Regions from separate parts of the Homo sapiens genome. Here region 1 is linked to region 2. Evidence: fine-mapped expression QTL. Tissue or cell type: whole blood. Region 2 holds a variant in brackets; the other region holds the start of a gene. All regions are shown on one strand. Distances are from middle to middle.

The links.
Region 1: it holds the start of SLC9A9, and the variant in region 2 is fine-mapped to the expression of SLC9A9 in whole blood (GTEx, PIP above 0.99).

The regions. Positions count from the first base shown.
Region 1 is chr3:143,841,797-143,857,879 of GRCh38, forward strand. SLC9A9 (solute carrier family 9 member A9) reads right to left here and starts at 6,672. Exons shown (of 16, transcript NM_173653.4): 1 at 6,352-6,672. The coding sequence starts at 6,526. It also overlaps the pseudogene RPS17P10.
Region 2 is chr3:143,805,902-143,821,984 of GRCh38, forward strand. All of the region lies in intron 2 of SLC9A9 (solute carrier family 9 member A9), which reads right to left. Among named protein-coding and RNA genes, the nearest start is that of SLC9A9, 35 kb to the right of the region's middle. The variant A/C (reference allele first, on the strand shown) is at 8,994.

The DNA.
Region 1 (16,083 bases), 36 kb after region 2:
AGGTTGGAGTGCAGTGGTGCAATCTCGGCTCACTGCAACCTCCGCATCCTGAGTTCAAGCAATTCTCCTGCCTCGGCCTCCCGAGTAGCTCGGATTACAGGCATCCGCCACTATACCTGGCTAATTTTTGTATTTTTTAGTAAAGACAGAGTTTCATCATGTTGGTCAGGCTGCTCTCGAACTCCTGACCTCAGGTGATCCACTTGCCTCGGCCTCCCAAAGTGCTGGGATTACAGGAGTGAGCCATCATGCCTGGCCCGGCTATTTTCTTAAAATCAACTTTTAAAAACATACAGAGTGCAGGCCGGGCGCGGTGGCTCACGCCTGTAATCCCAGCACTTTGGGAGGCTGAGGCAGGCAGATCACGAGGTCAGGAGATCAAGACCATCCTGGCTAACACAGTGAAACCCCATCTCTACTAAAAACACAAAAAAGTTAGCCAGGCGTGGTGGTGGGCGCCTGTAGTCCCAACTACTCAGGAGGCTGAGGCAGGAGAATGGCGTGAACCTGGGAGGCGGAGGTGGCAGTGAGCCGAGATTGTGCCACTGTACTCTAGCCTGGGTGACAGAGCGAGACTCCGTCTCAAAAAAGCAAACAAACAAACAAAAACCCCCAAAAACATAAAAAAACATACAGAGTGCAGTATGACTTTCATTCTTCCATTATTTTCCCTGTCTCTGGCAAATGTATTAACACATGGAAAACATTGTACAACTCTCTGAAGTTCCTTAAAAATCAAGTTTTTTACACCAAAAGGGAGAAGAAGTTTAGTATGCTGGGCTCCTAACCGTGATTACCTTTCCTGCAGATCCCTTAAAATTAAACCAGAGCTACTCTTGTTTTCATAAAAAATGCTTCTGCAAACTGTGGAATACATAGCCAGTCCTCACTATTAACTTGTTCTCCTCACCTTTCTGACAGGAATTCAACAGAATTTACTGAGCACTCCTTGCAAAATCAGAGCAGAAGCAGGAAGTACTAACAGTGCTGAAATAACACTAACTAAAATCTTGTCTGAGAGAACAGACTGGATATCATTATAGGCTGCCATGTTCTGGAAGGAAAGCTTCTGGTTTGGGCTGGAGTGGCTGAAAGATGCCTGATGGTTGAACTCAGTCTTGGCCTGAATTTTGAAGGACTTTTGCAGCTGGAAGGGAGACATGTGATATCTGTTCCTTTCTTCCCCATTTTATAGATGAGAAAAATAAGGCCAGATGTAACATCACTTGCCCAAAATAATGCATCTAGCTACTGAAAAAAAAATCATCAAGATTAAGAAACTTAAATCTCCAGGGGAGCACATCAATATTTTCTCTATAAAAAAAGCCACAGTGGAATAAGTAGAGCCTTGGAAGGACCTTCAGCCAGCGGGAAGGGGGTGAAGTAGTAGGAAGCATCTCCCATAGGCCTGGCAGTCAGGGAGGCTGGGCTGTCCTGGAGGAGGGTAAAATGGATCAGGAGGGTGTAGCCAACATGTCCAACAACCCAATTTAATCCTGAGGAACCTGCAGGGAGTGCTAGGAAGAAATTAATGCCTGCAGAAGATTTTTCAGAAAAGATAATTTTTCAATCCTTGATGATTCACTATGTAACTGTATTTTCTTTAAATCTTGAAAAACTTGGTGTTGAGTGAATTAAATTTGTCCTACTTAACTGTTAAGCACATTCTTAAAGAATCTGAAAACGCTTTAATATGATATAGTTTAATGAATTCAAAATGTAAACTTAGTGCCTTGAAATTTGTTATGTGCCCACTAAACAGTGGCCACAATTTTTACATGAATTCAGACTAACTTCTATGGGAAGGCCAGGAAGTCAAAGGCAGAATTCTAAGAGGTTTAAATTGCTCTGTCCCTAAGCTCAGATCCCAGCCCTCAAATGCACAGGATTATAAATGTCCTGTAAAGTATGGCAGCCCCCAGTGATATATAATGGAATTCTTAATGCTGTCAGGGAGCAAGGAGCAAATTTCTTTTATGAGCACTGAACAGGGGATACAGGCCCTAAGTGAGTGGTACTAAGTGCACCAGCTGCTGTCAATCAATACTTTAACCGCTAATTGTCATTTATGCTTCCAGTCCAATTTAAATGAGTATCATTATGGCTTATATTTTAAACCAGTTATGGATTCTAATCCTTCAATTTTGAAATGAGAACCATCGAATATCATAATAGATTACCCATTACTGTTCCTGGTGAAGCAAAAATATGGTTATAAAGCTGCCACTAATTTTTATAAGCTTCCTATGACCCTTAATAATAAGAAAAACCTATTTTTTATATAATGGATTATTTATACTATTTGGAGTATCATATGAATCTCTGATTGACACAGAGTCTAGCCAAATGCCACACAATTTTTCTTGGTCTCTACAAGTGTTCATATGATATTTTAAGATTAGCAACTTGAAAATTATTTCTAACAAGAAATATAAAAGAACATTAAACATTCTGCTTGATCACTTTTCTCTGCATTTTTTAAACTGCTTGTTTTCTAAGCCCCTGTTCTCTAGAATTTTTAAATTGGACTCTCAGGTACATTGATAAAATAGACTCAACATCTATCGAGTCTTCTAAAGAACATTTGACACATGTCAAAGGAATACTGGCAGAAAAGCAGATGGCAGAATAGGCTGAAGTATTATAGGAAATTTGATGCTGGGGAAAAACATTTATCATTCTTGATACAGGACAAGTAATACATTATACAAATAGTGAGAGCAAGAACAGTACTCGGTGGAGTAGGGGAGTTGCTAGCCAAATTCATTGATAAGCATTAGGTGCAGGTCCACTAAATCTTAAAATATATTTCATTACAAGCATATGTGTCTGTAGCACGGAGATGACTGTTACAGTCTACTCTCAAATGTTCACTTCCTTAAGAACAAGAAATTTTAAAAGTTTAACTTTCTTTCTCTTTCTTTCTTTCTTTCTTTCTTTCTTTCTTTCTTTCTTTCTTTCTTTCTTTCTTTCTTTCTTTCTTTCTTTCTTTCTGACACAGTCTCACTCTGTCACCTAGGCTCGAGTGAAGGCTGGAGTGAAGTGGCACAATCATAGCTCAAAAAGCTTAAGTTTTAAACATAGTTTTGTTTCTTTTCTTCCCCATTAGTTATCACCATGCCCCCCTGCTCTTGCAAAAGCTAAGAGTTTAATCCTTTAATGGAAAGGGGGATAGTACAATGTGGGATGCTGAAAATTCACTCTTTTAGACCTCCTGGAAAAGAGAATCTGGCTAATCCTGAAAGCTTAACCATATGAGGATGCATCTAGATCCCACAGACACATCCTTTCTCCAGGAAAATTATTGCAATAATTTACTTATTTTTAAATATCTTAGCATCTCTTATTAAAGAGATGGAGGTTGAATCCCACCTCAACAGCTAACTAATTACACGACTTTTATCTCTCTAAGTCTTCATTTGTTTGTCTGCAAAATGAGAATGCTGGATTTATGATCTTTAAGGCTCCTTCCCCATCTATGATTCCAAGTTCATTTATAGCTGTTGGACAATTAATTCACTTGGCATCTCCTTTCCCCTATCATTAAAAAGTGTTTACTACAGTATCCCATCATGTTCCTCTGGTGTAGTTTCAGACTATTTTATTACATTACTGATAGAAAGTTCCTAATAAGCATTTAAGATATAACATTTAGGACATCCCTGAAGAAGAAATGTGACAAGTCATGAATGCCACCCATATGGAGTACTTTCAGAAAACACAGGGAGAGTTCTTTCAGGTGAACGTGAACCTTAGTAAGACATGCAGATGAGTGAAAGCACATGGACCAGTCATGAGTGGCTATTCAGTTTTGGAAAGTCCCTTCACTTCTCTGGGATTCAGCTTCTGCCTCTCTAAAATAAAGGGGATAGAGAAGATAACCTCTAAAATTCTTTGACATCCTAACAATTATGATTCTATGCCAAGAAAAAGTTAAACATCACTAAAATATGTCTTTTCATTGATCTATATAGTTCAAGATAACTGAAAGATACTCAAAATTTCTAGTAAGAGAATACATATATATGCATATCTCCATAATTTTTATAATCCTTTTACATTGCACTGGTTCAGAATTTGCTTTCAATAACTTTTACTTTAAAAAACTCATGAAAGAAGAATAGGAATCAGAGAACCCAACTTAATTCCACTCATAAACTTTAAGCCTTTATCTGCCTTAAGAACAGCAATTTAGAGAAATGCTACCTCAATAGCAGTGGTCAATGAACTACTATTTTATTATTTCAAGCACAATTTAAAAATATTTCAGAGAGTTTTGCAGGATTAAAGGTAACCTGGAATTTTTCAGATTCAAAAGTAAGAGTTACTGTATGTATTGTGAATGCAAAACATGACTGAATTTTAGTAGGTTATCAAAACTTTTACGAAAACAATATCCCCACCATTGAACTTGGTAAATGAGTCATAGTTCAATCAAATTCAGGGATGTGAAGAAATCTTTCCCTCTAATAAAGGTTGGCAATCTATTAAATCTGGGTAGTTTTGCTAAAGCACATATGTCCCTTTAATATGATATCAAGAATTACATTGTTTCTGGCTTCTCAGATTCTATTCCATATCCTTGCAGATTACTTATTAGTCAAGTCAAGAGAAAAATTCTGTTCATGATGGAGATAGGCAAATGACAGGAACCTAGGGCTTCACATCTGATGGCATCCCCTCCTTTTTGTTTGGCTATTTCTCTCCCACCTGATTGTGATTTTTTTTTTCTCTTAAATGAGAGTTTTCTTGTGCCCGTTAAGACCCTCAATACTGGCTGGGAATGGTGGCTCATGCCCGTAATGCCAGCATTTTGGGAGGCCAAGGTCAGTGGATCTCTTTAGGCCAGGAGTTGGAGACCAGCCTGGGCAACATAGTGAGACCCTGTCTCCACTAAATTTTAAAAAATAAATAAAACAATACAGCAAAAAAAGGTTTTTTTTTTTTTTGCATTTGGGTTATGTTTTTTTTCTTTTTTTAATTATACTTTAAGTTTTAGGGTACATGTGCACAACGTGCAGGTTAGTTACATATGTATACATGTGCCATGTTGGTGTGCTGCACCCATTAACTCGTCATTTAACATCAGGTATATCTCCTAATGCTGTCCCTCCCCACTCCCAAGCAAAAAATTTTTAAAAGACCCTCAGTACCAAGGAATTTAACTCTGTGCTCTGAATGGATCAGCATATCAGCCTCCTGAGCCTGAAACTTCCGCCTTATAGCTCAAGTATCTCACAGTGGGATCCACTTAAGGCTTAGGATTCCTTAGGTTCTGAAATCACAACTATACACTGTTAATATCAGGACACCACAGGATTAGCATATACAATGTGCATTGATCTGTACCCTGAATCTCAGGCTTAGGAAAGGGTTTCAGGATTTCCAAAATGAGGAAACCCCAAATATAAAAGTATGTTATTTGCTATAAATTATAGCAATGCCTTGCCTGTTGCCATTGTGTTCAAACTTCCTATCCATTATCAGGCTGAGATAAGAGCAGTGAAGTAAACTATTTCATCAGTAACACCAGTAAAAACTGGTGTCTTTCATTTTACTTTAAAAGATGAGAGTACAGACAGATAATCTCTGTCAGACTTTATTAAACTTTCTGAAAGGAATGATACGGTAAGTTGCCCAGAAAGAGCAATACTGCAGGTGTTAAATATTTTTCCACACCTTGGCCTCCAATACATAAATAGGAGATACATAACAAATAACACTAGCAATGATCATTATAAATTAGAACATCTGAAATCAGGCTAAGAAGTAAAAAGTACTGCATAAAGAAACTCTCGTTTATTTATAACTTTTTATTATAAGAAAATAAGACACTGTTCGTATAAATAAAAAGGACTTGGACACAATATTCTCTTAAGAGGGGTGGGGTTAGTTTCTGCAAGTTTTCTTCTTGAAATTAGTTGATATAAGAGGAATTACTCCAGGCATTTTGAAGTGATGTTTTTTCTAGAACTTCGTAATGTTCATCGGTGCAGCCAGTGAGAGAAGGCTGCTCTTTGTGACTGCAGAGCCATCACTTCCCAACATCATTACAAAAACAAACAGCTCGCCCTCGACTCCCCACATGACAATGGACCCGCATCTGTCAACAGACTTGCATTATGTGCCGTGTGAGAACATGACTGTGACATTTGCTCTCGTGACATGGCAAATTTCGGCGGCTTGTCTGTAAAGAGATTAGCATTCGTTACGCTGCAGCACCTTTCATCAAACTAATGACATTTCAATCAGCACATTTTCTCCAGTTTCGGTACTTTGCTATCTGAGCACAAGTCTCTAATTACGCTCAAGCAACAAGTTTCACATCAATCTCACAATTTATGCACTCACCATACACCATTGCTCCTCCAGTTTCATGCAAGAAGCGGAATCGATGATTTTTAAATAACCAGATTGTCAAAATGGTAAGGATGAGCAAAAAATTGAAGACAAGCAGCTCCACCGCTCCCTGATGTTGAAACTGATACTCATCCTTTTCTGACATAACCCTTGACTGTCTCTCCATTCCCCAGTCTTCTTGGGATTCCTTAGATAAAAACCTGGATAAAGGCTATTTTATCAAGATTTGCCTAAGACAGTCTGACTGCCTGAGAATTTCAGAAGAAACACTGCCACTTTAGTTGCTACTTCACAAGCATTCTGCCCTGGCTTAGTATTCAGATGGCTTCTAGTTACAACTTCCTGTTTCTCTCTTAAAGCAGCCCTGTCTCTTTTCAAACTCGAGAGTGTGTGGTTTCATCACTGACTCTTAATGTCTTTAAGTGATTCATCTCATGAAAATATCTTTCATACTGGACAAATCTGCAAGCAATGATGCTAAGATCTTGAATCACGGTCTTATTATTCCAAATAAGTCTTCTTAAGCTGCATAAATATGAACTGTAGATTAATAATAAAAAAGGTAGCCTTACACTAGCAACGTTTTCTAAGTTCAAAAAGCCAATTCCTGACTCAACTTCACCTAAATGCAAGATCTTTCCTCTCTAACCAAGACCTGCCAAAGTGATGGGGATTGATAGCACAGTTATCAATCAGCCTCTGTGCTCTAAATGGATCAGCATATTAGCCTCCTGAAAAGATATTACACTGCTTAGCCTGAAACTTCCGCCTCATAGCTCAAGTATCTCACAATGGGATTCACTTAAGGCATAGGGTTTCTTATAGGGTTTCTTATGCTCTCAAATCATGACTGTACATTGGTTAAGCAAACCTAAAGTGATTTCACAGGATTTTTTTTTTTTTTTTTTAGTTGAGAAGCAAGAAAGGATTTAGTATATGACTCTATTTGGCTTTATATAATTGATAGTTGCAGAGCAGCCTTTAAACTCTAAATCAATTGTTTTTCTTTTAACAAGAGAAAACAATGAAAGCAAAAGACAAATAAAATTCCATCCCCATCTCTACAACTGTACTGTTTGGATACGTTGAGACAAAAAAGAAAAAAAACAAAACACATTACTTCGAAAGAGAAACTCACGCAGCCATCCTCAGCAACGCCACATGCATGGATTTCTCTTTGTAGGGTTCCTGGTCTCGGCATCCAGGACCCACAGAAATCTGCAATAGATCACAACCTCCTCTGTCCTATGGCAAAACAATGTTGCTCACTGAGAAATGGTTCTGCCACCAGAAATGAAAGCTCTGTATTCACAGGATTCTGATCATAAGAGTGATGATTCTTCAGATCATCTTCCATGTGGCAGGTTGCTCCTGTCTGATTTCATATTTTTCTACTTTAAAATAGTTCAAGATAATACCATGGGTTCTGCAGCTTTTTTTTCCTTTTCTTTCTTTTTTCTTAGCAAATATTATGACCTGCTTGCTTTTAACACTTGATCCTATAACACATTTGGGTATATCCTGGGGTTAGCTGATTTTTTTTTTCATTTTACCATATCATTGTAATTTGGGAGTATTAATCACTTATGATCCCCATTTTGACACAATTAATGCTCAATTTATACAATGTGATTTCTTATTGAGTAGGCTGAGCCCAAATGCGTCCTGAAACAATTTTTGTCACTAAAAGCTAAAGGTCAAGCATGTAATATTATTGGGAGCTAACTACCTCCTCAACAAACAGTTTCACCATGAGAGCAAGTCTATCAACCCCTTAATACAAAGCTCTGCTGTTTCAGCATCTTTGCTTTGTGCAACTTTGGAAGCTTATTTCCTCTCTGAGTTTAACTTAGCAGAGGGTATTTATGTGTGCTGCAGATGTTCTTCTGACACGCTACCCTTTTTGGCAGGAATATCTGTGATGACTAATATTCATACTGTTTTGAAACCTATCAGCTAATGCTTGCAAGCATTTCATGGAGCTTTGCTAGCAGGTTCTACCTTTATGATTTTGCAACTCCACAGGTTCAGTCGAGTTGTCAGATATACAAGATAACACAAATTCAGAAACTTCCTGTCCTTTTGTTTTTTGTCATTATTGAATTACTTTGGTTTTCTTTTATCACAATTATTCCATCTGAGTAGAATAAACATTCTCTGGTTGATCCGTGACATCCAGTTTCACTCTTTTAACCAATGAAGCAACTTGACAAAAGATTAATGGCCCATAGAATGTTTTGATTGGCTTACACGTCTTTTTAAAAAGTTTTAGGTTTGATGTCAACACATTCAAATCAGTATATTTAACATTTAAAAAATCATATGGCTTTTTGCAAGAAAAACTTGTAAGATCTGGCACACTGGGCCCTTCTTACATGGCCACAATCTGTTGGGGCTGAGTGGTTGCCTGCTGCATTTGCAACCAGCTTGCCACAAGTCCATTCATCCCTCTTCTTTCATTCATGGTCCCCGTGTGGCCCCTGCAGATGTTTGAATGTATGACCCCTGCTTTATTCCAGGAATGGAGTACATTCACTATTCCATTGTTCATTCCTGATGCTGCTTCACATTGGGGGGAAAAGCTTGAAGAAAAGGGGCTCAGGAAACATCTCCAATTCCTCCATCCAGAAAAGGAATTCAATTCTTCCTATTTTGTGTTTTCTTTTTAGAATATCATTTTTTATTTTGCTGTACCAACGTAAGTGAGAAAATAAAATGGAAACATGTAACAATAGAGAGTCTACTATGGACCAGAAAATATGCCAAGGAATTTAACTTAGTCTAATTTAATGTGCAGAAAATACTCACCCTTCTCCTGGTGAGTAATTTAAGGCTCAGGGAGATTTGGCAACATAGCCAAGGTCACACAGCCAGTAGGAGTTAAATTGCATGTGGGGTGTATTGGCCTTTAGATGGCTTTTCAGCCAGGGTGATCAACTCATCCTAGCTTATCAGGGACTTTCCTGGTTTACTACTGAAAGTTGTGTGTCCCAGGAAACCCCCTCACTCACAGACAAACAAGCAAACTTGGTCACTCTAACAGCCAAAGTTCCTCAAATTCTCAAATCCTGTACTGTCAGTAATCACTATTTTTCATGAGATTCCTGAAGGAGATATTCACACAAGAAACAATATCAGTTAAAAATTACATGCTGTTTTGTGACCTGGTAACCAGGATCATTAGTTCCAGGTTCTCAGATAAAATTGGGATGGACTCAAAACTTAGGCACAAGGACCAAAGAGGAATTCTTGACTGTCCCTAAATCTCAATATTAATACCTGCTGGCTACTGCAAGATGCGACACGCAAGTGAGAAGCAGCAAAGAGAAAGAACAGGATGGCCCAGCCTGTTGCAGTCAGTGTGCCCTGTCTCAGCTTGCCCATCCAGCCACAATGAAAGAAAGAACTGAAGAGTGGAACCTCCCAGGCCAGTGTAACTTTGCATGGTGCGGTAATCTCACCCATTAGTGAATGGGATCCAATCAGCTTTACAGAATCTAACCAATCACTTGAGAGCTCCTCATTCTTGTAAGAGGTCATTGAAGATTGTGGGGTCAGGGTGTCGAGAAGCTAAGTTTGCTTTGGGTAGGGAGACATACTGAGAAGTCCCCTCTCCATCTCCCTGGAGCTCCACAATGCCCAGTCTTAGTTCTCTCTCAGCCCCTAGTGTTAACAGAGAATACTTCAGACAACACAGGCCCTGGGTTATAGGAAAATTCCACCGTCTCATTCATGTGGCCTTTCCCTTGCTATTTATCCCTCTCTGAGACCAGTGAAATGGAAGTTTCATATTTTGCCCCACCCTACTCCAAGCTTCTGAAATGGGCCAGGACAGGACTGTAATTAAGTTTGCTTGAAAGCCACACGATGTCCTCATCCCAAAATTCATCCCCTATCCTATTTTCAAGCTCACCATAGACCTATCTTAGCTGTCCCCACCTGAAAAAAGTCACATGTTAGCATAAGTTGCCCCTAAATTTGAATAATATGGACCCCTCCCATTAGTATATTTCCATAGAGAAATGAAAGTTCAAAAATTTCACGGGTAATTAAATCCCATAGTAAACACTTGGACAATATTAAGCCCACCCCAAATTCACTGTTCAATGCTTGGTTTCTTTCCTTCAGCCTTTACAAAGTCTGGTCTGTGGGATCCAGGGCCATGAACCCAGGATGTGACCCCAACTCCATGTTCTTTCCACTGCTCTTCATTATAGTGGGAAGGTGAGATTAAAAATCACTGAAAACGAGTTAAATTAGAGAATTTGAATCATTTTATTAACAATGCAAGTGTAGAAATGTGTGTGGCATGGATAGGGGATCCTTTCCTTCTTCTACCCAACAAGTGCATTCCAGCCATTCTCTGAGGAGGGAAAAATGGGTGCAGACCTCACTGTTTCCCTCTGTGAACTGTTATCTCTGTGTTGATTCTTGATGCTCAGAAGTCCATCACTCAGTGACGACCAGAGAAAAGGGGAATCTTCTTCCACCTGCACTAGAGGCTATTTGGCTGGCCTTGGCCCACCCAATGCGTACTGGATGTTATTTAGGTATTTTTTTCATTGAAGAGTCCCAAAACTGTATACAGCCAGGTTGAAGCAAATCTGACACAATGCCTGTGATCCAGTCATGTCATCCCTATGTCATCAAAGGGGGGACAATCTTACAGCTGAAGCCTGGGGAATAAGGAGGGTCCCAGATGCAAATCCCTTGATTCCCAACTCAGGCCCTCTTCACCCTGTTTCCTGCAATCCCCTGCTTTTGTCCTCAGCTTTCTGTCCACAGCACATCATCTCTTTTCTTTTAGAAAGGACACCTCTTCAATAGAAATAATAAACTTCAGTCTATAGGTCCCCTCTTCTGTCTTGCACATCTTGGAGGGCCCATCATGAGAAAAAAAATTCACTCACGGGCTTCTTGTTTTATTCAGTCTCTGCTGGTTCTGCATAAGGCAGAGGTAATGCGGGCTCATCACAGTGGCTGGAACCTACTCCTAACCCAAGATAAAGACTTCATGGGTGAAAAGAAGTGAGCTCTGGAGCCAAGGCCAAGAAGGAAAAGATGGAGACATGCTATTCCATGCTGCAACTTGTTTTAGCACAAAATTTCTGAAATAAGAGCTGAGAAAATTCATTTCTTTGATCTCCCATTAAGTGTCCACTTGATAAATTTGCATTCTTCTTAGAATATAACTGCTACTCTGTATCTCACCAAGTAATAATTCTGACCTCACTAGCTAAAAGACACTATGTGTTAAATTATAAAATTTTTGTAAAAACTAACAAAGAAAGGCATCATGCCCCTCACCTCTCCCGGATCTCTACATTTTTCTCTAAAGAGAAAAAGAGACTTAGGAGAGAAGACAAAGCTCCAGACTAGGAGAAGCTGAATACGCTTGGAAATATTTTCTGAAATGAAGTATGTCAAAATCAAGCAGATTTGGATAGTTTCACCCCTTAGTTTTTCCCATATCAATTCAAAATCTAGCCTTTGAGGCAGCCTTTGTTAGAGGGTGTCTCTATGTGAGTTCCCTCAAAGCAGACCTTGAGACAAGGACTTGCAGGTAGTTTATTTAGGAGAGGATCCAAGGAATCCCAAGTGAAGAAGTTTGCACAAAGACTAGAAAATACCATTTTTCAAAAATAAAATTTTAATTTGCATTGAAGCCTCATTCATTCCTCATTTCATTCAATTCTGTATATGGTTTGTGAACTTTGAAACTTTAATAATTTATAGCTATGCTCAAAGCAATCCTTAAGTAGCACCTAAGATGAATTTTATTTACACTTAAGCCAACTAAATTACATAATAAATTCTATGACAAACACTATGGTTCTCTTAGATAAGAAGGTAAATCATGTTCCATGGCCAGCAGAGTTAAAACTACATGTCACCTGTGCAGAGAAAATTCAATTTACTTTGAAATACAATTTTCTGATGTTAACACTATATCTAAAGTAAAAGTTTTAAGTTAAAAGTTTAAAACTACTCTGAGACTCTTTGAAGACTGTGACTTGGTGTATCACACACAAACACATACACTGTGCCCCACCCTATCACCCAAGGTCTTCCTACAAATGAATTTTAAATCAACAACAGGTGGTTACATATTCATTTAAATCCAGACCAACAGGTTTTAATGGATGTCATAGGACAATGTGATTTTATTTCTATAAAAATGTCCTGCGTTACTGTGGGGAAAAAAAATAAATTCACAAAGAAAGATGGAGCATACAATGACAATTTTTTGGTTACATCATATGTAGCTTCAAGAATGTTTCTTTGTTGGCTAGGATAAATATGAATTCACAAATAATGACACTTCTACTATCCAGTCAGAAGCTCCAGTATCTAAGTAACTGACAGTCATTTCTAAACTCTAGGTGTGGAAAAGAACTGTTTCTCAGAATATAATCAGAACCTATAAATCTCAATTAAACCTGTAACAGAAACATTGTGTTCTAGCAGCTGTTGGAGAGGCTCTTCGAGATTCCCAGGTTCCTCAACAAAATCACTAAAAAGACTATGAATTATGAATATTTGCTTACCTTTTGAATCCTTGCTAAAAGGGTAATTTTAAAAGTTTTTCAGCAGGGTATTTGGGCTTCAAAATTGAGGGACTATAAATAACATACAGTTTTTAAATGTTAAAGGAATATTCTTTCTGTAAAAAAAAAAAACAAAAAACAAAAAATGTCTTCCTAGCTTCTTACTTAAGCCATGTCCTTTATGACACTATAATCTTGAGAATTGTTGAAATGGGAAAAAGCAGAACCAATTAATTATCAGGAATTTAAGATTCAAACAGTATTGGATTCCACCAAAATCTACTCTTAAAACTAGATTTATTTCTAAGTGAAAAACAAAATTGTTCTGTTAGAGATTCAATAGCCAAAACCTCAGGCCTTTCCTTTCCACCATGATAACCAAAAGAGAATACACACAAAATAGACAGCTGACAAGAACAGGGTACACCAAGAATGTAAGGCTTTTGGTGAACTTTGTTTGATAATGCGGCTTAGACCAGAGGCTTCCCACATCTCACTTCAAATCTACAGGAAAGCCGAGGACAGCATACTCTGAGACACACTTGCTGGGGTAAAATCTATCTGCACAGTAGAATCTACTTCCAAGTACTCAACCTCTCTATAGAGGGGAAGAAGGGTTGCCTTTTGCAGAGACAGCAGCCAGAAAGAGGATCTTAGGGCTACATCCACCACCCCTCAAGCTTCTGCGCTCATTTTGACTGATCAGATAAAGAGATAAAAGGCTCAACCTTCTCTGCACCTCAGCACAGGAAACTTACTTCTAGTAAGGCATGGCCCAGCCAATGCGGTGCTTGGATCACCCACTGACCATCCCTGATCCAAGGGATTAAGAGTGGGATATGCTTTCTATGACTCTTTCAGGAGGTCAGAAGTGGAGGTAGAAGTTTCCTCCTTCGTGGACCACTGTGGAAATGTAGGGATAGAAGCAGAAGGGCTCCCTGTTTTTTCAGTTTTTTGTGGGGGAGGGGGTTTTGTTTTGTTTTATTTGCTGTTGTCCCAGGATTATTGAAAATATTACAGCATTGCAGACAGCTTCAAAGAGCTCCCCGAGGCATTTTGAAATTTATCTCAACTGTAGGTCGAGTGACCTGCAGGTTGGACAGACTGACAAAGTCCAAAAGCTCCAGCATTTCCTTAGTGTCAGGATCTACTTCAACGGTCTCCTGATCCAGGACTGAGATCTCGGGAACATAATTGTCTCTGTTTTCTCTCTCCTCCTCCTGCAGCTTGATGGAGATACCTCTCACTGGGCCCTTCCGAATCCGCTTCATCAGATGCTTGACATAGCCTACTATCTTGTTGCGGAGCTTCTTGCTGAGGATAATGGCGATCTCGCACACACATTTGTTCGTGTAGAAGTCGTTGCCTAGGCGCGTGCAGTACTTTTCTATGATGACCTGGGTGGCCTTCTTCGTGATTTTGGTACAAATGTGGCCATGTGAGTGAAGGGCTCCCTGTTAACTCTCCCCAGGTCTTTTTTCTTTAAACCTGTTGGAGCAGGGCTGGTCCACTCGGGAGAGCAAGCCTGCATTGTGTCTGAGCAGGTCTGCTCCTGCGTTCATGTGGTTGCGTGTTTTGTATCCTCCTAGGGCTAGTGTGTAAAGTGGCCTAACTGCTGCACTTGAAGGCTGTAGGGAGAATAGGAACTCAGCGAAATTGCCTTAACTTCACCCCACACCAAAGGATTAACATTTCCTCCTATACAATTTTTTTTTAATTGTGTTGACGACAAGTTGTGTTTAACCACGTCAGCAAAAAAGTATGCCATTTAAAAAAATACTCAAAAAATACATTGCGGATACACTATTCAAACACCTGAATTTGAATGTTATTTGATTATTAAATTGTGAGAAAAAGCCCTAAAGTTTGAAATCAAATTCCCCTTCCTTCTGTAAGCTAAATTTGAACTTTTTCTGACTTTGCTTTCTAATTTTGTTGGATTGGGCTCAGTCTCGTGGTGCCAGATTTTCTTCACCAGCTGTGATGTTTGGGGCCATCTCTGGAGCACTAGAATGTCTATAGACTCTTCAGCAACGACAAAGTTGAACGAACCCAACTACAGATTACTCATGCTGAGCCAAAAAACAGGAAGCATGAGCAAATCCCATGCTCCTAGAGCAGCTGTCCTAAACCAGATTTTCTGTCCCTAGTTTTGTAAATAGTACAATTTGGGGAAAGGCAGGAACATGAAGAAATGCAAAGTTATAGATATAATATTTTTTGTTTCAGGCTAACCAATATAGACATCAACAGGGCATTTGGTCCAGAGGTCATTATGAGAGAATTTAAATCCACGTGAGAAATTGCCCATTTATTGTAACATTGAGCTCCCCGCACCAATGGGGAAATCACTTGTATACACTGTCTTGCCAATAGACAGTGGCACTTAAAATACTTTCTTCTAAAATTTTGAAATGTGCCAGCTTGATACTTCTCCAGTTTTATGCAAGGCTTTGCCAGTCCTCTCTGTGTTCATCTAGTGTGTTTAAAGCCTTTTCATTATTTATTGGTGAAATGATATGACACCTGGACCTTTAACATATACCTTCATAAAATCTTATGAGATAAAGTTAAAACGGAAGTAATGACAATTTTATGGTTGCTGGGGCTACATGATGGGAACGTATGGTATTTTTCTCTCTACTTTTGTGAGTGGTTGAAATTTTTCATAATACAATTTTTTTATGTATTCTTATTTCCCTCTTGATTGTCACATTTGGGGGATCCAATTCCTCCCTGGGCTTGAATGCTGCCTAGTAATGTATCTTCCATTCCCTCTTTAAGCACATTCATGATATGCGTTCTGTGAAATCCCACCCTCTTTACCTTCTCTATTGCTCCATGTTGAGTAGAATTCCAAGAGGGTTTTAGCCTTGCACTGCAGCAGCTTTGGTCCTGGAGTTCTTTTCATCTGGGAACTCTGTTTTATGGATAAAGTTCTCTCCCATTACCCTAGTGGCCTCATTTGGAGGATTACCCTCAGCAAAGCCCTAACTAAAGCCACTGCAGATATTTCTAAGTAGGAATCATTATGCTCTTTTTCTGTTTATCTTTTTTATTTCATTGTTTTCTCTACCCATATATTTTTCTATATTATCATTTACATAATTCAAACTTTTTTTATTTCAATAGTTTGAGATACAGGTGATTTTGGTTACATGGATAAGTTCTTTAG
Region 2 (16,083 bases):
GTCTCTTCACAGAGACTCGAGTGAAAGAAATGATGTAGAAATTCTTGAATCCAATATCTATCTGCTCTTTGCTGGGTAATCTGAAAATAAAAACTCACTGATCTCTAAAACTTTCCTGGACTTATTATCTTATTTCTCTACTTCTCTTTATCCTTTATTCTTTTCCCCCCCACCTCTTCCCACATCCCCTACCCCCCGTCCCCCACCCACACACACAGGCATTCATTATTTTACCACTAAGAGCTTCTCACCATTAGACTCCTCATCAAAATCAAATGTATGGGTTTCACAACTCTAATTTACAATTTTCTTCCCCTTTTATGCCTGAATTCTTACTCATCTTTCAAGCTGCCTCTCAAAAGTTACTTCCCTGTGATATCTGCCCGATTTGCCATTCCAAACCGGCCACTCTCTGTTCTGTGATTTTTAGCATTTTGGCCCCTCTTTTGTGGCATCTGTGTTTCATTGCATACTTTGATGATTATTGGTTTATATTTGACTGTTTCTCCTATTAAATTGGGATCGTATCAAGGATCACAGTGATGCCTTAGTCTGCATTGCCTTCTCCTCTGCCAGTGCCTAGCAAATTGCTCAATATATATTTGCTCAACTGGAAAAAAAAACTTACTTTTGAGAGTCAAATGTATTAAAATGGAATGAATTATACCCACATCACAGGTAAGGATTTTTTAATTAAAAATTTTAAAAAGCCAAAAGACAAATTTTGCATATTTTTACTCATTCTATAGCTAAAAATTGAAACAATTGAACTCATGGAGAGAAAGAGTAAGTAGAATGATGGTTACCAGAGGCTGGGAAGGGTATTATGTGGTGGTGGGGGGGGCAAGTGGGGATTGTGAATGGGCACAAAACATAGTTACATAGAATGAATAAGATCTAGTATTTGAGAGCACAACAAGGTATGTATAGTCAACAATAACTTACTGTACATTTAAAATTAACTAAAAGTATGATTGGAATGTGTATAGCACAAAGAAATAATAAATGCTTGAGGAGATGGATACCTTCACCACTAAAATTTTTAAAAGCCTCTCTTGGCTTCATGTTTTACTCTGGGCCTGTTTGGGCATTGTCAGAACCTCCCTTCACCCTTCCTCATACTGGCTCTCCGAGGAAGTGAAATTAGAGCTGAGATCCAAAGGCAGAAATGTGACCGAAACAGGAGATGAGTGGAGGAAACAGGATCCCAGCCAGAGCATAACACGCACAGAGATCTGAGGTAGAAAACAGTTGTGTGTAGGCTGGGCACAGTGGCTCATGCCTGTAATCCCAGCACTTTGGGAGGCTAAGGAGTGTGGATCACTTGAGGTCAGAAGTTCAAGACCAGCCTGGCCAAATTGGTGAAACATTGGTTTTAAATATAGGATGAGCAGATCATCATTTTCAGCTTCTGAGTTGATTGTTGCAGTCCAAAAAGTTTTTTTACTCAGATTTCTGAATGAGCCAGTATAACAAAAGAAATGGTGGAGTGGGCAAAGGCCATAGTGTGGGGCCTCACTGACCTCTGGCTTTTAATATATGAAAACTGAGGCACTAAGGAGAAAAACAAACCATTTTATTTCATGATCTATGTTCCTTCTATTATATAAATTACTTGGAGTAGTGTTTAAGGGCATGGACACTCAGAGCCAAGCTTCCTGGGTTCAAATCCGTTTCTACTAAAAATACAAAAATTAGCTGGGCATGGTGGCTCATGCCTGTAATCCCAGCTACTTGGGAGGCTGAGGCAGGAGAATCGCTTGATCCTGGGAGGCGGAGGTTGCAGTAAGCCGAGATGGCGCCATTGCACTGCAGCCTGGGCAATAGAATGAGACTCTGTCTTTAAAAAAGAAAAAAGAAAAGAAAAGGCAACAGCTGTGTGTGTTCAGAAACCCAAAGGCCAGAGGGGCTGGGTGGAGTGGGCAAAGGCCATAGCATGGGCAGATGGGGTTGAAGAAGACCCAGGTGGAATTGGGCAGTGCTGGGAGGTGATCCCAAATGGAGAAGGTGCCGGTAGAGGGCTGGGCGGGGATGAGAGACCATCTCGATGCTTTAAGAAAGTCACTTGGGTGGCTTCTGCAGAATCCCGGTGAGAGAGGATGGTGGCCGGGAGTTGGGGAGAGAAGGCAGTACCCAAGTATACTGGGGAGGCAGAATGAGCAGTCAACAAGTTAGGTGTTGAGGGTAACAGGAAAGGGAGAAATCACTTCTAGGTTTTTTGCTTAGGTAGTAAGAAAGCCTAAGGTCAAATGCCTGCTAAATCATAGCTGCTCATCAAACGTTGGTTTCCTCTCACTAGCACATATTCCACATGTCTAGAAAAATTGTTTTACTTACATTTATGAATCAGACATGATTAAACTCCAGCCATTTCTTTTGTTATACTTGCTCATTCAGAAACCTGAGTAAAAAAGCTTTTTGGACTGCCACAATCAACTCAGAAGCTGAAAACGATGATCTGCTCATCCTATATTTAAAACCAATGTATTACATTAATTTATTTTCAGAAAATCAATCTAATTCTACTAGGTTTTGTATTTTATAATTGATTCTGGGCTCTTAGTACATTTGACTTTTGGTGTACAAAGCTTGGCTTGTAATTATCTTTTGAAGAGAAGCACCAATGTTTTGATTCTGTTTTTACCTCACTGACCTCTGGCTTTTAATATATGAAAACTGAGGCACTGAGGAGAAAAACAAATCATTTTATTTCATGATCTAGGTTCCTTCTGTTATATAAACTATTTGGAGTAGTGTTTAAGGGCATGGACACTCAGAGCCAAATTTCCTGGGTTCACATCCTAAGCTCCTTGACTTGGACAGCTATTTAACCTCTCTGTCCTTCAGTTTTCTCATCTTTACAATGGACATAATAGTGTGGTACCTAATTCTAAGATGGTTATAAGAATTAAATGAATTAATATTTGTAAAGCCCTCAAAGCATTGCCTGACATCTAGTAAGCACATTTTATTTATTACAAAAGAAAATAAAATATTTGAACGAATATTTTCAAATCATAGCATTTGAAGAAACTGCCTATTGTCAGAAACTCCTAAAGGTTACACAACTGTGCAAAATTTGAGGAAAGATCTTAATTTTTCATTTAAGTTTGTTCCCTTTCTAAGAGTATCAGGAACACCATTATTGATCTATTTTTATGAGGCTTCTTTGAGAATATATCAATGCATATTTGAAAGTTTTTAGCATAGAGATGTATTTCTGAATGCTTGAGGGATGAAGCAGTGCAGCTGTGATCATCTGGAAGAGAGAAACACAGTGGTACAACCTCCTGGACAGAAAATCCCTTGCCTCAGCAGTTTTTCTGCAAAAATCGGGTTAATCACTCAACCAGAACATTTCAATAATGAAAATGCCCCATTCCCTGCATGCAGGTTAACTAATATCCTATTGAATTATATTTTCTGGAGCAGCCAGATGAAACTGGCAGGCTGAGAATGGCATGCAGCATGCAAGGATTTATTTGTGTATACAAAACAGATTTGTGTTCTTTTCAGACTTGCTGTAAGCTTACGAACTGCTAAATCAGAGTTCTGGGAGTAACTCCAAACCCAGACAATTTCTCAGAAATGGCTGGATCTGCTGCTGTACTAACCTCCAGATGGGAATTCCACATGTCATTCTCCCCAGACTTTGTGTTCAAATCGTGGCCTTGGAGGTGGGGCTGTTTTTAAGGCCCAAACAGTTAAAAAGAAATTATTGTAACATGAGGAGAAAAAATCCAAGCGAGGGATGGGTGAGAAGAGCAGAAAGCTAAAAATGTTCCCGCTTAAGCCTTTCATTAGTCTTTTAAGATACAAATCTTATGGACAAGCACTGCCTAATAGAACTTTTTGTGATGGTGGAAATGTTCTTTCCTTGTACTATACAATATGGTGGCCACTAGCCACATGAGCCATTGAACACTTGAACAGTAGCTAGTGCAACTGAGGGACTGAATTTTTAATTTTAACACTGGTAGCTAGTGGCAATTGGAGAGTACATTTATAGATGGTTACTAGAATTTAAAATTTATACTATTTCCTTTTTAGATGTTCTGTCATACTACAAAAGGTGTGACTAATTTGGAGCAACAGACCTCCAACTCTGAGATGGAAACATTACGTATGTCTTATGAAAACAGTGAGATTTTTAAATATTAAAATTCAATTCTTAAAGATAAAATGGGAGAGAGAAAAATATCAATATGTTCACGAGGATGCAGCAAATTTTAAATATTATCTCATATGTGCACCAGTATTTGGCTAGCAATGGCCCAGACATATATTTACAGAGATAATCAACTTGAACACTTCCCAGAGTGGAAAGGATATGTACCAAGTTAATTTCCAAGTTCATCAGAAGGTTACAGATATAAAATTCTGTTTGGGTCTGAGTATTAAGGAATCCATTGACTCAATATGACTTATCTGGGAAGAAATATCAGTGTTCCACTGAACTACTAAATAAATAATCACTAAAACAACCATCCTAGTGAGGGATTGTGATTTATGTAGTACATTCCTTCCAAAGAGGTCTTTTAAAAACATTGTTTCATCAATTCTGACAACATTCTCAAGTGGTAGCTGGCAAATGCAATTATCCCCATTTTCCAGAGACAGGAGAATAAATTAATGGCTTACCCAGGGTCAATCAATAAGACAGGACTATCACTGGGAATTGGATATATATGCATGGGCAAATGAAATGTGTGCTTTCCAAGGAAACATGAGGCTAACATAACCATTTTAAGCAAGATTTAGGAGTGTTTAAGAGAAGTTGGAACTAAGAAGTAGGCTCTTGCTGTTTTGCAATTGCTGATTTTTTTTTAAGTGGTTAACAATAATGTGTTAATCATCTTCAATGCTTTATTCATTAGAAATTTAACAACCCTCTTTTTGCTGCGAAGCACTTGAAGATATATTATAGAGAGACTGACTCCATGAAGGTTATAGTCCAAGAAAGGGAAGACGCTGTATAATTGCATCTAAGGTGCTGGGATAAGCTGTAATTCAGAGTTTTCTATGACAGGGACACCATTCTGGGCTTGCTGATCCCCCAGGAAATTTTGATGTTGAAGCAGCATATGAGTTGGATTTTGAAGAATGGGTAAGAGTCTATTTGTGGGGCATTGACATGCAGAACCATGCTCTCCTGCCTCCCCCGGGGGCAGTGGACCAGAGTTCCCCAAACCACAGAGAACACCGGTAGCTTCCTGGGGTTTCAGTTACAGTTGGTAGCAAGGAATTTAAAATATTAAAATAAATGCAGATATATGAAAAAGTGAAACTAAAAATCTGTATCTGTTTTTAATACAAATAGGAGACTTCAAAGGAAACATCATGGCTCAGGCAGCTTTGGGTCACACCTAGGGACAGCTCAAGTGTGTGCATTTCTTTTCCTCTGCCTTAAGTTATGCTTTGGTTTGAGAAGCACCAGAGTGAGAGAAAAAAGAATACTCTCAGAATACCTAATGAAAATATACCACCTAGTAGTTAGATGACCTTGGTCTATTTACTTAACCTCTCTGAGCCTCAGTTTCCTTATTCGTACTATGGGCATGAAAATGCCTGCTTCCTAGAGTTGCTTCTGAGGATTATATGTAATAATGAATTTAAAGGGTTCTGCTTGGTACCCAGCCCTATTTTTCAAGAAGTGTTCACTGGCCCGGCACAGTGGCTCACACCTATAATCCCAGTACTTTGGGAGGCCGACGTGGGTGGATCATTTGAGGCCAGGAGTTTGAGACCAGCCCAGCCAACATGGCAAAAAATGGTCTCCAGTTAAAAAACAAAAACAAAAAAACAAAAAAATTAGCCACGCACAGTGGCACACGCCTGTAATCCCAGCTACTCTGGAGTCTAAGGCACGAGAATCGCATGAACCCGGGAGGCAGAGGTTGCAGTGAGCCAGGATTGCATCACCACACTCCAGGCTGGGTGACAGAGAGAGATCTTGTCTAAAAAGAAAAAAAAAAAAGAAAAAGAAAAGAAAAACAAGAAGTGTTCACTAGATCTGAATCTAAATGAAATAAAATATTGAAGCAATGGTTTGAGAATATGAGGCACAAGGAACACCTGGGGAACAGAAATAGACAACGTTGGGTTCCTAAGGAATAGAGGGGAAGGTAAAGTCCAACAGGAGGATACAACCAAGATTGTGGGCCTCTCTCAGATCCACTGGATTTAAACTATGTTTACTCAAACCTGTTGAGCTATTTTACACAAGCAGAATTAAATAATAAAATGGCTACTGGAAATATACTTTGTATTACTCCTAAGAAGGGTAATTTGGTAATAGCTATCAAAATGTTAACTGTTGATACCATTTGATTCAGCAACACCTCACCGGAGAATTTATCCTGCAGATATGCTTGCACATGTGTGGAATAATATAATTACAAGAGTATTTATTGCAGATGAAATAATAGAAAAAACAAATCATTGAGGATGATTGGACCATGGACTAGTTAAATAAATTATGATATAATTCATAAAACGCGCCTGTTAAAAAAGCTGAGGAAACTGCTCGCCTATGAAATAATGTGGCTGTGCTCAAAAATGTATTGTCAAGTCAAAAGAGCAAGGTGCAGAATGGCATGTCTGGCATGTGTAACAGAAATCTCTATGGCCTCACAACACCCATTTCCTTTTTGTCCTGGTCAGACATGTAGACTACATTTCCTTGTAGTCAGGTGGGACCATATGACTGAGTTCAGGCCAACTGAATATGGACGGAAATAATATTTATCACTTCCTAGTCCCTAAAAATCCCCCAGATTTTCCATGCTTTCTCTCCTTCCTTCCTTTTTCAGCTTATGTAGAGCATTCGGCAGCGGTTATGAATCCCTAGAGACTAACAGAGAGACTAGATTAAAGGAAGTCAGAGCCATTAATGGCTCCAGGAGAGGAACCCAGTGCCCCATCATTGACCTAAAAAGCCACACTGGATTGAGACATGCACAAGAAATAAACATTTACTACATTAAGCCGCTGAGATGTGATGGTATTTTATTAAAGCATTTGGCATATGTTGTGATTTGTGTTGTATTTTTTTAAAGAAGGACATGAAATATTTACCTGTGTATAGAAAGAGTAACTATTGGTTGCTTTGGGGAAGACAGGGGAGAACTTGGTGGCAGGAAGAAGGGCATTTGGCATAAGAATTTTCTGTGTACCGAGTAAGGGACTAGGGGTGACCTTCTCGGTGCTGGTTTCATATCTGTAAATACAGAGGTGACCACTGCTTAGAGCAGTACATGCCAGAATTTTCCCCAATATGATACAAACAGAAAATGATAATATTGGGTCAATGAGGCTAAATTGGAAGGAAATTAGGGTTCTGATGAAGGTGCTCATGGCTGAAGACAAGTCTGGGGCTCTGCTTATCCTCGGTCCAAGGATGAAAAGATCCATATCTCGTGACACACCTGTGATCCATTAACACACCAGCCGGGGAGTACTGGAAAGGCTTTAACCCCCTGATCCTGATCCCAACTTTAATTCACCCCCTTTTAGGGAATAGAGAGTGACTAGTCTGATTGGTGAATTGGAGAAGAGGAATTAAGTGTGTACCTCTCAGCCTCCTCCTCTGTTCACATTGGAATTAGCCTGCTTGATGAGTGAATCCCCTCTCTCTTCCTCCCGCTCCCAAACTTTGTAAGAGCAGAGCCCAGCATGGAGGCCAATTCTGTCCAGTTGGGTCTCTCTGGGTGTGTAAGTCTTTCTAATTCTGGTGTAAAGGTGAGCAAGGCAGCCCGCAGACCAAGCCCCATTATTTTGCATAGTTTTTGCTCTCCATCTTTCTGATTCCTGTATCTATTTATCCGCTGGCTACAACATGAGGTAGGCAAAAGAGACAATGAATTAACCCTTCAAGATTCTCATATACTCTTTTGTACCTTTTGAACATCAGGCCATGTGAATGTATTACCTAGTCAAAAATATATACATTTTTAAAGAAGATGTCTGTGCAGATTAGTTTGCAGAGACCTCAAGATTGTCCTGGATGAAGGGAAACCATTGCCAGGCTGCAGTTACCAGAATGAGCTCAAGGTAATGATAGTGGGAATGAAGGTGGTTGCGATAGAATGGAAAGAAAGAAACAAGACCAGGAGACATCCATTCACTCAACATGTGTTTCCTTAAAATAAGCCAGGCATATGGCAGGGAGGACTAGCAGGGTTTGTGGGTAAAATAGAGGTAAAAATAGAAAACTCCATAAGGAACCTATGTTTCTGCACCTGGGTGAGTGACTGAGAGAATATGGCTGAGGAGGAGCTGACTCAGCAGGAGTAAGAGGGGTCAGAAAGGCTGAGGGCTCATGGAGGCTTCTGCTCACTAAGTTGGAGGTGCCTGTACGTCACTCAGAAATATGTGCCTGGTGGCAAAGTCAGGGCCAAGGAGAAATGATCCAGAATCATCAGTATGGAAAAAATGAGTTGATGAGCATAGATGGGGTATCTGGGAAATGAGTGCCACAAAAAAGAGCCAAGGATCAAGGACAGAATGCTGGAAGGGGATGCAGTGGCCCTACCAGGGAGAGAGACAACAATCAGAGAGAGGAGGAGAATGAAACCCAGGGCTGCAGAAAGCCAGAGAGAGGTGGAGGATGAGAAGGAGCTGCCACTCCTTCATGCAGGGCTGCCAGGTTTAGCAATCCAAACACAGGATGCTGAGTGAAATTGAAACTTCGGATAAACATCACTTTTTCAGAATAATTTCGTAATATTGCATTTGAGACATAATTTTCCCCAGTCATTGACTATGTATCTGAAATTCAATAAACAGAAAGAGATGTAAGAAGGCAAACCCCAAAAGTGGACCTGGCTGAGAGAATGGCTGGGGAGGAGCCGACTCTACCTTCCCTACTCTGATGTCAGCTGCTGAAAAAAGGAGTTTAAGGACCAAGGGGAAATCCTTTGGGTTTCATAATTAGGAAGTGGTTTTTGATCATTTCTGACTGCCTTACACCAAGAAGTGGGTACAGGAGGTTA[A/C]GGAAAAAATGAGTGATGGCAAGGTAGGAACAGTGGGCTCTGGGCCTTTCACAGGGCAGGCTGAGCAGTGGCTTTTTCAGGAATCTGATAAATGGCTCTTGGATGAACAGGAGGAACAAAGGAGAGGGAGAATAAAAGGACAAAGGCCACAAAAGGGAAGGAAGGAGGCAGGAGAGGACATCAGGAAACAGAGTGGTAAGGGCCAAAATAATGAAGATGTGCTAAGTTAAAAAAATTAAAGAAGTGATAAGAGCAGCAAAATTAATAAATTAATGCTTTTAAAATGGGGAGAAATTTTACTCAAAGACATTCAAATCTGTGGACTGGCCAAATTAGGGGATGGTTTTCATAGTAAAAAAATTAAAAAAGCACTCTTCCATTTCTCCAGGTGTTTACCAAAGAGCCCTTGTACATGGCAGGCACTTGTCAAAGAAATGGGTCAGACTAACAGCTTAGTGCCATTGACAGTTAGGCCATCAAAGGGAGAAGCTGCCTTAGAGGCCACTAGTTGGGGAGAAGCGTGGCAGTAATGGAAAGTGGGGACTATTGCCCCCTCCTTCCTGTCTTAGCAGTTTTGACTTCACCTGTTTGACACACTGTGAAGCCCCTTTTTTGTTAGATTTTCTTTGAATGAAGGGCTTTTTGCTATTTTAAAAAAAAAAAAAGGTTTAAAACCCTGACCTAATATCCGCCGGGCGCAGTGGCTCACACCTGTAATCCCAGCTCTTTGGGAGGCTGAGGTGGACGGATCACGAGGTCAAGAGATGGAGACCATCCTGGCCAACATGGTGAAATCCTGTCTCTACTAAAAATACAAAAAAATTAGCTGGGCATGGTGGTGTGCATCTGTAGTCCCAGCTATTCAGGAGGCTGAGACAGGAGAATCGCTTGAACCTGGGAGGTGGAGGTTACAGTGAGCCGGGATCGTGCCACTGCACTCCAGCCTGGTGACAGAGCAAGATTCCATCTCAAAAAAACAAACAAACAAACAAACAAAAACAACAAAACAAAAACCTGACCTAATATAATCCTCCAGAGAGATCGAGAGACATGTGCAAGGTCAAATTTGTTCAGAGGCAGCACCAAGCTTGGAAATCTAAACCAGAGATGTTTTTCTCTTATTTTATGTATGTGCTTGACTTCACCTCAAACAAGTTTTAAATGATATGCTAGAGTTGAAGTTTCTCCTCTTCTCACCCAGCCCCAGAAATAATCAATGCCCTGAAGTCAGTGCCCTTTCCTTCCATTACTGTATTTATGTATTTCATATATGTGTAGTCGTAAACCATAGTTAGTATTGCTTGTATATTTTTACTTTATTATATTCGAGACAGGGTCTTGCTTTGTTGCCCAGGCTGGAGTACAGTGGTGTGGTCATAGCTCACTGTAACCTTGAACTCGTGGGCTCAAGTGATCTTTCCATCTAAGCCTCCCAAGTAGCTAGGACCCCAGGTGCATACCACCACAACCACCTAATTTTAAAATACTTTTGTATATTTGTATGTTTTAAAATTGTATCCTAAATACCGTTTTACGTTTATTGAATATAAAAGGCATCCTCTTGCCTTTCACATTCAACATAGTTTTTGAGATTTATGTATATTAATATACAAGTGATCTCATCCATTCACTTAAACTGCTGTGTAATGTTCTATGGGATGAACATATCATGATTTGATTTTTTTCCCTTCTCTTGTTACCATTACTAAAAATGCTGCAATGTATATTCTTGTACTTAAGTCTGTGTATACATGTGAGAGTTTCTCCAGAAGTGAAAAATACCTAGAAGTGGGCCTGCTGGGGTATGAGGTATATAAACCTTCAACTTTAGTAGGTATCACCAAATTAGAGGGGCTACCCAATTTACACTCCCATAGTAAAGTGTAAGAGTATTTCCCCAGATTTTAGCCAATACTTAGTATTGACAAATTTCTAATTTTTGGCAATCTGGTAAGCATGAAATGATATCACATGATCATTATCTTAAAGTTTTTCATTACTAATTAAAAGAACATACACTCCTCATTTATTGGCCTTTGTGGTATCTCTTTAGTGAATTTTCTGATCTCTTTTACTCAGTATTAGTTTTTCTTATTGATTAGTTCTTAATGTAATCTGGTTACTATTCTGCTTTGGTTATTTAGATTTCAAATACTTTCTTCTATTCTCATGATCTCCTTAAGCTTTTAGACTTTGACTTTTAACTTTGTTGATGGTGTCTTTTTCATGCAAAAGTTTATTTTTTTTTTTATTTTTTTTTTTTTTGAGACGGAGTCTCGCTCTGTCGCCCAGGCCGGACTGCGGACTGCAGTGGTGCAATCTCGGCTCACTGCAAGCTCCGCTTCCCAGGTTCACGCCATTCTCCTGCCTCAGCCTCCCGAGTAGCTGGGACTACAGGCGCCCGCCACCGCGCCCGGCTAATTTTTTGTATTTTTAGTAGAGACGGGGTTTCACCTTGTTAGCCAGGATGGTCTCGATCTCCTGACCTCATGATCCACCCGCCTCGGCCTCCCAAAGTGCTGGGATTACAGGCGTGAGCCACCGCGCCCGGCCAAAAGTTTATTTTATTGTAGTAAAATTTATTCCATTTTTATATTATTATTTGTGCTTTTGGTGATATCTTTAAAAAATATTTTCCTATCCTGATGTCATAAATATATTTTCTCCTAAAGTTATATAGTTTGATTCTTACTTAAGTCTCTAATCCATCTCGGATTTATTTGTGATAAGATGTGAGATAGGGATCTAATTCTTTTTCTTCCATATTGATAGCCAATTGTCCTAGGAAAATTCATAGGTATTTGGTAATTAATCCTTTTCCCATTTATTTCAGTTGGCTCTTCTGCCATTTTCCAGTGCTTTTTCAAAGACCCAGAAGACATTTACTCTAACAAATATTTTATATCTGTTATCTGATAGCCTATTTAATGTTTCAAAATACAGGAAAAGCTTTATACAGATAGGTATTCACTGAAGCATTATTTATATTAGTGAAAATTTAGAAACAACTAAAAAATCAAGCACATTTCTATCCATTACAGTTAATTTTTAAAAGTCTGACAGAAGGCTTAGGTTATGATAATAAGTAAGTAAAGCAAGTTACAAAGCTTTAGAGACCATCTGATTTAAGCTACACAGAAAAAAAAATATGTAAATGACTGGAAATTTACCAAAATTTATAGTGGTTGCATAATATTGTGGGATTATTTTAATTATTTCAGATAAAATACTTTCTTGTCACTCTAAATGAATATCTTGTAAAGTTACCATTTATGAAGTTATTCTACAAGTGTAATGGAATCAGTAATGAAAATCACATATATTTTTTAAATTATCTTTTAAAGATCAAGGGATAATAAAAGCTGAAAAATGGAAGATAAGAAAAAGTTAAGAACTGGGGACTCAGACTTGTTATATATATATATTTTTTGAAACAGAGTCTTGCTCTGTTGCCCAGGCTGGAGTTCAATGTCTCAATCTCAGCTCACTGCAGCCTCCACCTCCCGGCATCAAATTATTCTCTTACCTCAGCCTCCTGAGTAGCTGGAATTACAGGGATGCACCGCCACGCCCAGCTGATTTTTGTATTTTCAGTAGAGACTGGGTTTCACCATGTTGGCCAGGCTCGTCATGAACTCCTGACCTCAAGTGATCCACCGGCCTCAGCCTCCCAAAGTGCTGGGATTACAGGTGTGAGCCACTGCATGCCTGGCCATGATTTTTAAGTGTGGTAAAATATCTGAAAAGGACTAATACAGAATCAGGCAGGTGAGCAATAAGCCCTCATTGAATGTCCAAACCTATTGAGTTTTTTCACTTTTCAAAAATTACTGGAAGTCGGCAGCAAATCCCTCCAACTAGAAAACTTAGTATTATGAATGTTAACGGTTAAAAACTGGAGGATCGGCCAGGCGCGGTGGCTCATGCCTGTAATCCCAGCATTTTGGGAGGCCGAGGTGGGTGGATCACCTGAGGTTGGGAGTTCAAGACCAGCCTGACCAACATAGAGAAACTCTGTCTCTACTAAAAATACAAAAAATTAGCTGGGCATGGTTGTGCATGCCTGTAATCCCAGCTACTCAGGAGGCTGAGGTAGGGAATCGCTTGAACCCGGGAGGTGGAGGTTGCAGTGAGCCAAGATCGCACCGTTGCACTCCAGCCTGGGCAACAAGAGTGAAACTCTGTCTCAAAAAAAAGGAGGATCACTGAAATATATACATTTTCATTGAAATTCAGAGAAGCAAAACTAAATTACAGAGAAACAGTGAAGGGAGAACAATGTAGAGAAAAATAACAAGTTATCATTGAGAATTTGTGAGACTAGAATACCATAAAGCTATAATTACTTTTCAAGTCTTTAAAATGCTAGAAGTTAGAAATGTCCCATTGTGAACATTATACATACAAAATTGACAGATAGAAACACTGTTATTTCACTGGAGGTAGGTAGTGCCTATGACTCCAGGCAAAATTAAGTGGTGAATTAAGACCAAAACATCTACATAATTCTAAACATTTAACTTGGCAGCATGGAGTTGTAGAAAGGACATTGAACTTGGAGTCAGAAGCCCTGGTCCTAATTGTAGTTCTGTTGTAAATCAAACTTGACCAAGTCACTTAAGCTTCCAGAACTTTGGTTCCTCCTCTGTAGCGTGGGTCATATTTGTTTGTCTTATGGAATAATGGTGAGATTGAATGGACAATGCAACAGGAGAAGCCTTTGTAAATAAAAAAAAAATTTCCATGGAAAAGAAAATACACTGTCATTATTATAATTTGGGTGGGGCTGAAGTTTAGGATTTGACTTCCTCACATATAACCTGGTACATTTACTATTTGCCAATTAGTCATAATAGTAAGTAATTAAAAACAAACTTTCCATAAGGCTGTTACAGTTTTAAAGTTTCCTTCATACACAGTGTCTCATTTATTTCTTTACAACACCCTTTGAGTTAAGTATTTGTGCACACCTCATTTTTACAGAGGTGGAACCAAGGCTCAGAGTTAAGGCCTTAGCTATTTACAAGGCATGTTACTTGCCTTAAGTCACCTACCTTGTAAATAGCCAAGGCCTCGACTCAAATCATAGCTTCTAATTGCAAGTCCATTGCTTTGTTGATAACAACAATAGCAAGTAACACTTAATATACTTTGAGCACTTACTATGAGCCAGACACTATTCTAAGTGCTTCACATGAATTTTCTCATTTGCAATTCACAATAGTCCTACAAAGTAGTTAGGAATTTGAAGCATAGGATGGTTAATTATCTCACCTAAGATCACACAGCTTGTAAGTGGCATTTGATCCAAGTTATATGGCTCTAGAGATTGGCCTTTTAACTTCAATATCCCATCTCCTACTCATAAGTGGGTTCAGGTCACCCACTCAGCTGCTGAATTTGTTCTCATTGAATGCAAATACATCAAGGACAACTAAGTTTTCTAGATCATTGCCATGGCAACAAACCACCAATGGCTAGAAACTCTTCTATGTTTTGCGTAAGATTCTTGATGCACAAACTCACCTTTGCTATCTTTGTGACTTTTTGCTAAGGTCAATATCGTACATCCTGGGTTTCCTACCCCTGGACCTAGATGCCCAAACTCCAGGCCTTCTCATTTTCTGCACACTTGGATTGGCTGCTGCTGGTCCCTTGTGGGCCTGCCATTCATGTGGGGGTTGCCCTACTACCCCTCACTAGCTGTGGTATTGACATAATCATGTGACTTCAGTCTAAGACTGACATGATACCAGCAGGAGAAGAGAAAATAACAGGTGCAAGTGAGAAGAGCCTGGTCCTGCGTCTCACCAAGAGCTACTCATTCCTCAGGAGTCACGAGCCATGCATCCAAAACAATTAAAACTTTGCACATCAACAATGATTTCTTTCTTTTTTCCAATCTAGAATAGATCTTAATATTGGCTATTTTTTTTATTACAGGCAAAAGAAACTGCTTTCTATCACTTCAGAATATACAGGAGCATCTCAATCCTAGTCTTTCTTTGTCTTATTTTTTTTTTTTTTGAGTTTGCATTATCTTTTTCAGACCTTAGCTTTGAGGTGTGTATGCAGCTTCCCCCATCACATGACCTCACCAGGGAGCAACTGGCCTGGGGAAGCTGGACTGGGAAGGGCTGAGTCAGCAAGGACCACAGTCACAGCAGGCACCCTTGAGGGGACTGGGGTGAGCAGGAAGCTGTGTGTGCTGAAATCAGCAGAAAGCATGATTTAAAATTAAATTGGTGCATATTTTTAAATGCATTTAAGCACCACTTTAAATGGTACAATAAAAAGCAACACCAATCTTTCTCCATCACACGCTCCTCAGACTTCTTACTCCAAGGGGAAATCCATGCCCATTAAGGGCAGATGTTATGGAAGGAGAAAAGGAAGTAGACTAATATTTATAACTTGCCTAACTTTAAACATAACTTTTCTCTTTAGTTCTGAAAGTAACTCTCTAAAATATGCTCAGAGAAATTAACCCACCAAAGGTAAATCTCATCTCAGAGATGAGATTCAATTAGATCTAATCATAGAACTTTATGCACTTCGCCATGTGATCTTAGAGGCAGAGTTTGAGCTGAAAATGTGATGCTCTAACAGTAAAATTTCAAGACAATTGTCAAGTAGGAAAGGACTTTTTGGGGACGTGAAAAATGAAGTGTTTAGATATTTCCAATTCTCCTAAAAATGAAATTAGGTAAGCCTGTATTTAGTGATGGGCTTGTAAACCATCTTTCTGGAGAAAAACAAAAACAAAACCTCACAAGCCCTGATTTGTACCTTTTGCCAATTTCTGTGGTATAAATACTCCTATTATGGCCCATTTCAAGTTTTCAACAGGCTCACAAAGTTGTTGAATATTTAATAATCAGTTCTCAAAAGCTGGGACAAGCCTGCTCCAGCACTCCACTGCAGTCATTTTACTCCAACTATGTGTTAACTCATCATCTAGGTACTGTTCTCAGGTTTAAAATCTAGACAAAGCTTCCCAGCCTATGCGGGGGTCAGTGTGCCCGGCACTGTGCTGTGCCACTCTGACTCCCCTTCAATGAAGGCTGTGTTGTCCTTGCTGCAGCAAGCG